2 linked regions of the Homo sapiens genome follow. The protein of the gene in region 1 purifies or fractionates together with the protein of each later gene. This does not show direct contact. Each region holds a gene or a part of one and is shown on either strand. Other genes may lie near its edges.

Region 1 (3,651 bases):
AAGAGATGTGGGTAAGTGAAACCTTTGTTCAGTGTTTTCAGGATTTCACTTAGGACATGGCCTGAAACTTTACTGAATACAAGGAAGGTACAGTTTGTGTTTTCCAAGTGCACCACGGTCTCTCGTTGTCACGAAACCAATTTTGAATGACATAATGTCTCATACGTGGTAGAAATGAAAGACTTAATTTAAAATATTAATATAATACAGTTAATGTGTTACTATTTCTACCAATTTCCTAGTTAGTCTAAAATCTTGCATGGTATATTATGTAACTACTAAATTATATATGTGATGAATCAGAAGGAACGTTAAGGGTAGGAGGACTTCAAGATGGCTGACTAAAGACACCCAGAGCTTGCGTCCTCCACAAAGAGCCAAAATAATGAGTAGTGCTCACTTCAGCAGCACATATGGTAAAACTGGAATGATCAGCCCCTGCACAAGGCCGATATGCAAATTCATGAAGTGTTCTATATATTTTATTACTAAAAAATTTAAAAAGCAAATAGATACTCATACATCAAATAGCATCTAAGAGGGATCACTGGAATTCAGCAGAGAAGTGACAGGAAACACCCGAAGCACAAAAGGAGAGCGAAGGGAGGTAGCCCTTCTGGCCGTGATCACCTGAAAGCCGGGAAAGGCTCCTAGTGCTGGGAAAGGGTAAGTGAGAGAGCCCTAGTGGTTTACATTTCCGCTGTGCACTCCAGCAATCAGCCATGAGAGAGGCCCTCGACCCCTGTGGGCCCTGAGACTAGCACAGGGGGCTACCTGGAGTCCATGCAATGGCACTCAGAGAGGGTACTCATGATGGGACCCACACACTTCCTGAGACTCAAGCAGCTATGGCACAGCGCTATTTTGAGAGCTGCACCCCCACCAGACTGCATCTTGCCCTGGGGCCCAACAGCCTTTGCATCTCCAAATCCCTGAAGCCCCATGGACATGCCCCCACATCCACCCAGAGGGTTACAATAATGCCTGTTAGACCCAGCAGTATGGCAGAGTCCCCAGCAATCTAGGCCACATAGTGTCCCATACTCTAGGGAATGGGCCGTGAAGGACACCAGGGAGGCTGCCCCCAGTACAGTACAAAGGGACCCAAAGTGTGTGCACTCACCAGAGCTTGAAAGCTGCCTGTCTGGGGCTGCTGCCTCTAACGGCAATGCTACCTCACCCCCAGCAGCAGGGCCACTGTACACTCATATGTGTTCTCATTCTGAGGAAAGTTTCTCTGCACACTCTGCCACTGCCACCCAAGCACACCTCCTAAAGGCATGGGGAGTCCCTTGCACTGCCCACCACAACCTGTGCCCGTGCACAGGACAAGCCCACTTCACTTGGTACCGCCCATCTCAGTGCCAGAGCATGACACAGAGGGACCTGGGGATTGCTCTACCCTGTGTTGCCTCAGGCACATGTGTGCACAAACAGGAGACCTGACAAAGACCCAGCTTGTGTGCTGCCAGTGCTGGAGCATGCCATCTGGGGACCTAGGGATCACGCCGCCTCTTCCACCACAGCCTACATCTGCCTGCACCACTGAAAGGCCTGAGGACAGGCTCACCTGGCCTGGCGTCATTCCTCCACTACCTAAGCATACCACCTGGGGCTGTTGAGATCACCCTGCCATGTTGGTTGCCCCAGGCATGAGCATGTACCATGCAGGGAGCTTTACAACAGACCCAGAACCCTGCCGCAGGTGCCCAAGCATGCTGTCTGGAGACCTAAGGATTTCCCTGCCCTGATCACCACCACTGGCATCTGTATACTCCTCCTAGTGACCTGAGGACAGGTCCTACAAGCCTGCTGCCACCATCACCGCTGACACTCACCTGCACACACCATGTGGGGGCCTCAGGACTGGCCCACCCAGCCCATCACCACTACCTCTAACACCGGTACACATAGCCTTAAAACCTGAGGGTTATCCTGCCACCACTATTGGGTACTATGCTCAGTACCTGGGTGACAGGATCATTTGCAATGCAAACCTCAGCATCACACAATATACCCAGGTAACAAACCTGCACATGTACCCCCTGAATCTTAAAATAAAAATTGAACAGCTAAAAGTCCTCCTCTTAAGACATTCCATTCCAGTGGGTAGAGATGACAGCTAAATAGAAATATATAAGACACAGTATAAGACAACACCAGAAGGGTAAAGATAGGATGGTATTCCATTCCCTCTCTCTCTCTCTCTCTCTCTCTCTCTATATATATATATATATATATATATTTCTTTATTTATTTTTTGAGACAGAGTCTCATTCTGTCACCCAGGCTAGAGTGTAGTGGCACAATCCCAGCTCACTACAACCTCTGGCTCCTGGGTTCAAGTGATTCTCACGCCTCAGCCACCCGAGTAGCTGGGATTACAGGACTGTGCTACCACACCCAGCTAATTTTTATATTTTTAGTAGAGTCAGGTTTTGCCATGCTGGCCAGGCTGGTCTCAAACTCCTGGCCTCATGCTATCTGCCTGCCTCAGCCTCCCAAAGTGCTGGGATTACAGGCATGAGCCACCACGCCCGGCTGGTATTTTAAATAGAGTGGTCAGAGAAGGCCTTTCTCATGATATTAAAACTGAACAGAGACCAGAATAAAGGAAGGGTCAGAAGGTCTTGAGGTGAAAGAGTATTCCAATCAGAAAGAAGAGCATATATAAACTCTAAGACAGAAGCTTCTGTAGTAGACAGAACAATGGTCCTTGAAAGATGTCCACATCCAATTCCCAGGACCTATGAACCTGTTATGTTATATAGCAAGAGATATTAAGGCTGCAGATGCAATTAAGGTCACTAGTCAGCTAAAGAGAGAGTAAGAAGGTCATTCTAGATTATGCAGGAGTGACCAATCCAATCGCAAGGGACCCAAAATGTGGAAAACAGAGGCTTAAGAAGGGTGGCAGATGACTATGGAAGAATGGTTAGAGATGCAATGTAGCTGCTTTTGAAGATGGAGGAAGGGAGACAAGAGCCAAGGAGTGTGGACAGTGCCTAGGGATTGGTAAATTAAAGTGAAGGCTTCTCCCCAAGAACATCTAGACAGGAACAAAGCCCTAGGGACACCCTGATTTTTGTCCAGTGAGATGTGTCAGACTTCAGATCTGAAGAACAGAAAGATAATTGTTTGTTGTTTAATCTGCTAAGTGTGTGGTCACTGGGTGACAGCAACAGGCAATACAGTGTCCTTGGCAGGATGGAGAAACAGCAGGGAGTACAACGTGGCTGGAAAATGGAGATGTAGTCAGAGAGGCAGTAGGGGATGAAGAGCAGATCAAGGGTCTCTAAAAGGCACTTAAAGCAGTTGTAACATTAACACAAATAAGAAGCCATAAAGGCTTTTAAGCTGAGGAATGGCAATCTGACTTACATTCCCTAAGGATCACTTTGGCTGCTATGAGGAAAACAGATGTCAGGGTGGGAAGAGGGGGTGGGGGAGCAGGACAACCAGCAGGAAGGAGGTAAGAATCCAGGAAACAGGTTTGGCCATTTATACCAGGGCAATGGAGTTGGGCAATGGACAGAAGTAAAACAGATGGAAGGGTCACGTACAAGGATGCATCGTTGCTTGGTTCTTACCTGAATTCCCTTCTCTTTGGGTTGCTGTCTCCATGATCCAAAACTTTTCTTCTCTTTGGAA
Region 2 (3,651 bases), on another chromosome or scaffold:
TTGGCAGTGATTTTGAGGCTGGATTGCTTTTTATCCTGTGTAATTTTTAGGAAGGCTGCTTTGGCAGTGATTTTGAGGCTGGATTGCTAAGGTAAGGGGAGACTATAGGCAGAGATGAGTTATGTCATTGTTTTAAACTAGGTGAGATGTGATCAGGGCCTGAAACTAAGGTGATGAGAATAAGAGAGGGAGAGGATATTAAGATGGTAGAATTAGGCTAGGTGCAGTGGCTCATGGCTGTAATCCCAGCACTTTGGGAGGCTGAGGCAGGTGGATCACTGGAGGTCAGGAGTTCGAGACGAGCCTGGTCAACATGGCAAAATGCTGTCTCTACTAAAAATAGAAAAATTAGCTGGGCATGGTGGAGCACGCCTATAATCCCAGCTACTCATGGGGCTGAGGCAGGAGAATCGCTTGAACCCGGGAAGCGGAGGTTGCAGTGAGCCAACACCATGCCGTTGCACACCAGCCTGGGTGACAGAGTGAGACTCATCTCAAGCAATAAATAAATTAAAATAAAAAACTAGCCAGATGTGGTGCCGCATGCCTATAGTCCCAGCCACTTGGGAGACTGAGGTGGGTGGAGGATTGCTTGAGGCTGGGAGGTCCAGGCTGCCATGAGCTATGACTGCACTGCTGCACTCTAGCTTGGGCAACAGAGTGAGATGCTGTCTCAAAAAAAAAAAAGAGAGAGAGAGAGAGAAGGTAAAATTAATGGAATTTAGTGATTGACTTGGGATAAAGGAGAAGGTGCTTTGAGGTTTAGGTCACTCTGCGGAAAGTGGTACCATTTACTGAAATAGGAAAATTCAGCAGGAACAGATTGTCTTTTCGGGGAGGTGGATGTGAGAGGTAGCAGGTTGGTGTCTTACTTAAAGTATATTCTCTAAGTGGCTGCCATCTTTTCATTGGCTTTGTGGTTATGGAATAAATCAGAGTCGTGGAAGTGAGAGAGAATAGGCTAGTTTAGATTGCTATAAAGTGAAAGAAAGAGAAACTGGTAATTTAGAGAGGAACATTGAGTAAGATTTAAAAAACTTGATTATGTATATATGATGAAGGGAAAGGTCTGTGGGGCTGCCTCTTCTGTTGACACATGAGGAAAGGATGAGTACATGGGAGTATATATACTTAGACGTAAATATATGAACACATGCCTCCTATAAGCTTACGAAAATGTTGGTATAGTTTTCTTCTAGGCGATTCCAAAAGGCTTATCTGAGTCTTTTCTAGTCTGGCTCTAACCAAGAGCCCTAGTGCTTTATTTTTAAGTAGGATAAGAGAAAGCTGAGCAAGTAATTTGACCAGTGGCTTTGATTTTTCTCAGTGAAGAGGAGCAGGGTCTTCCTGGAACAAATGGGGAAGTGGTGGGGCAGTGGGGAAAGTGGGAATATGTTGGAGGACCTGCCAAGAAGGGTGGGAGAAAGTGGAATTGGGACACACAAAGAGAATTGCTAACAGCGCGGAGGCCCCAGTTATCATTGGTGCTACTGCAAATTCATAGACTCCAGTCCGCATCAGCCTAGGTGTCAGAGTAGAGAAATGAAATGGCTAGACTGACCAGGGACCCAGAAGGAGAAGGAAGCAAAAGAAAGGTAATAGTAGGAGTAATAATACTAATGGGAGTCATAGTAGAGAGCAAATGAACTGATGGTTTAGAGGCTCCTAATGAAATAGGAAAGGCAGAGTGGAACTGATATATCAGTGAAAACAGAATGGTCAGGAGACTGGAAAGAGAGGTCCTGATAAGGCTGAAGAGTCAAGTGAGAGATTAGAAAGGGAGAGTTGAAAAAACAGGATGTATTTGTTAGGGAATAGGATATGGTGGTTTAAGGTCAAGGCAGCTTTGAGGATCACGTCCTGAGAGTGGGGAACTAAAGTAGAGTGGGGTGAAAGTCTTTGACGTATATATACTTTTTTGAGACGGGTCTCGCTCTGTTGCTCAGGCTGGAGTGCAGTGGTGCGGTCACAGCTCACTGCAACCTTGACCTCCTGGGCTCAGGTGATCCTCCCACCTCAGCCTGCCGAGCAGCTGGGACTACAGGTGCACACCACCACGCCTGGCTAGTTTTTGTATTTTTTGTGGAGATGAGGTTTCCCCATGTTGCCTAGGCTGGTCTCAAACTCTGGGGCTCAAGCGATCCGCCCACCTTGGCCTCCCGAAGTGCTGGGATTACAGGCATGAGCCACTGTGCCTGGCCTAAAAGAGCCCTGTTAGGAAGATTATCCAGCATAGGTTTGCAGGATGGGTTGGAAGCGGGAACAGACCGAGAAGAACATGTCTTAATATCTCATTTTCTGGCAGCAATCTTTTTGGGTTCCTTCCGCATGCCCTATCAAGAGATTAAGAATGTCATCCTGGAGGTGAATGAGGCTGTTCTGACTGAGTCTATGATCCAGGTAAGGAGTAAGGTGGTTCTGCTGGAGCAGGCTCTTCTGTGTCGCTGGGCACTGGCCTCATCTCTGTGTAGATGAAGAGGATCCTCCTCCAGCATTGCTGACTTATGAATGCTGGCTTTGAGAAACTGCCTTTTCTCTGGTGGTCAGATTACTTCTGGTATATTTTGCAAAAGTACCCCCATCTCAGTAGCTGCCTCTCTTCTCCCACCATATGTTTCTTTCTGTATGGTCCTTGAGCAGAGTGTGGGACTGACAACAGAGTAAAAGTTGTTTAGGCTTGAGTTGTTAGCGAATTCCCCTCCAGCTGAGATGTCTCTTCTGTCTTTCAGAACCTCATTAAGCAAATGCCAGAGCCAGAGCAGTTAAAAATGCTTTCTGAACTGAAGGATGAATATGATGACCTGGCTGAGTCAGAGCAGTTTGGCGTGGTGGTGAGTGAGGCCTGTGGCAGTAAGCGGTTTTCCACCTCCTGTATTCCCCTCCCCTCTAGAGAGCAGCCTGGGCATATGCTCCTTGCCGCTTGTCTGTTTTTGAACCTGTCTTAATCTCTCTCTTCTCCCTGCTCTGGAGCTGTGATCCTCCCATAGGAGGCTCAAGCGTGTATCTTTTTCTGACTTCCCCCTCTTTTGACTGTAATGGAACTGCTTGTGTTCTTTACTAGATGGGCACTGTGCCCCGACTGCGGCCTCGCCTCAATGCCATTCTCTTCAAGCTACAATTCAGCGAGCAAGTGGAGAATATCAAGCCAGAGATTGTGTCTGTCACTGCTGCATGTGAGGAGTTACGTAAGAGTGAGAGCTTTTCCAATCTCCTAGAGATTACCTTGCTTGTTGGAAATTACATGAATGCTGGCTCCAGAAATGCTGGTGCTTTTGGCTTCAATATCAGCTTCCTCTGTAAGGTGAGCCAAAGAGGTAGGGCAGGACAACACAAGGAAGGCTGTAGCCTCTATGAGTTCAGTGTTGGCAGGAGGCCATCTTGGACATGTCAGGATTTAACAGTTTCTCCTCTTTCTCTAAGCTTCGAGACACCAAGTCCACAGATCAGAAGATGACGTTGTTACACTTCTTGGCTGAGTTGTGTGAGAATGACTATCCCGATGTCCTCAAGTTTCCAGACGAGCTTGCCCATGTGGAGAAAGCCAGCCGAGGTGGGGCAGTTTGGAATGAAGCTAGAGCCCAAAAGTCTCTGCATGGGGAGGGAAATAAGACACAGTCTAGATGTGAGAGCATTTTCAGTTCAGACTATTTC

What was found.
Region 2: the proteins of ZNF284 (region 1) and DIAPH1 purify together in Homo sapiens (affinity purification with mass spectrometry; one large-scale study listed by BioGRID and IntAct). This does not show direct contact.

What each region holds. Positions count from the first base shown.
Region 1 is NC_000019.10:44,082,045-44,085,695, reverse strand, and holds part of ZNF284 (zinc finger protein 284), read right to left. Parts: coding exon 3,591-3,651; intron 1-3,590. UniProt on the Homo sapiens protein: May be involved in transcriptional regulation.
Region 2 is NC_000005.10:141,528,352-141,532,002, reverse strand, and holds part of DIAPH1 (protein diaphanous homolog 1), read left to right. Parts: intron 1-2,305; coding exon 2,306-2,400; intron 2,401-2,729; coding exon 2,730-2,831; intron 2,832-3,061; coding exon 3,062-3,301; intron 3,302-3,420; coding exon 3,421-3,550; intron 3,551-3,651. UniProt on the Homo sapiens protein: Actin nucleation and elongation factor required for the assembly of F-actin structures, such as actin cables and stress fibers. Binds to the barbed end of the actin filament and slows down actin polymerization and depolymerization.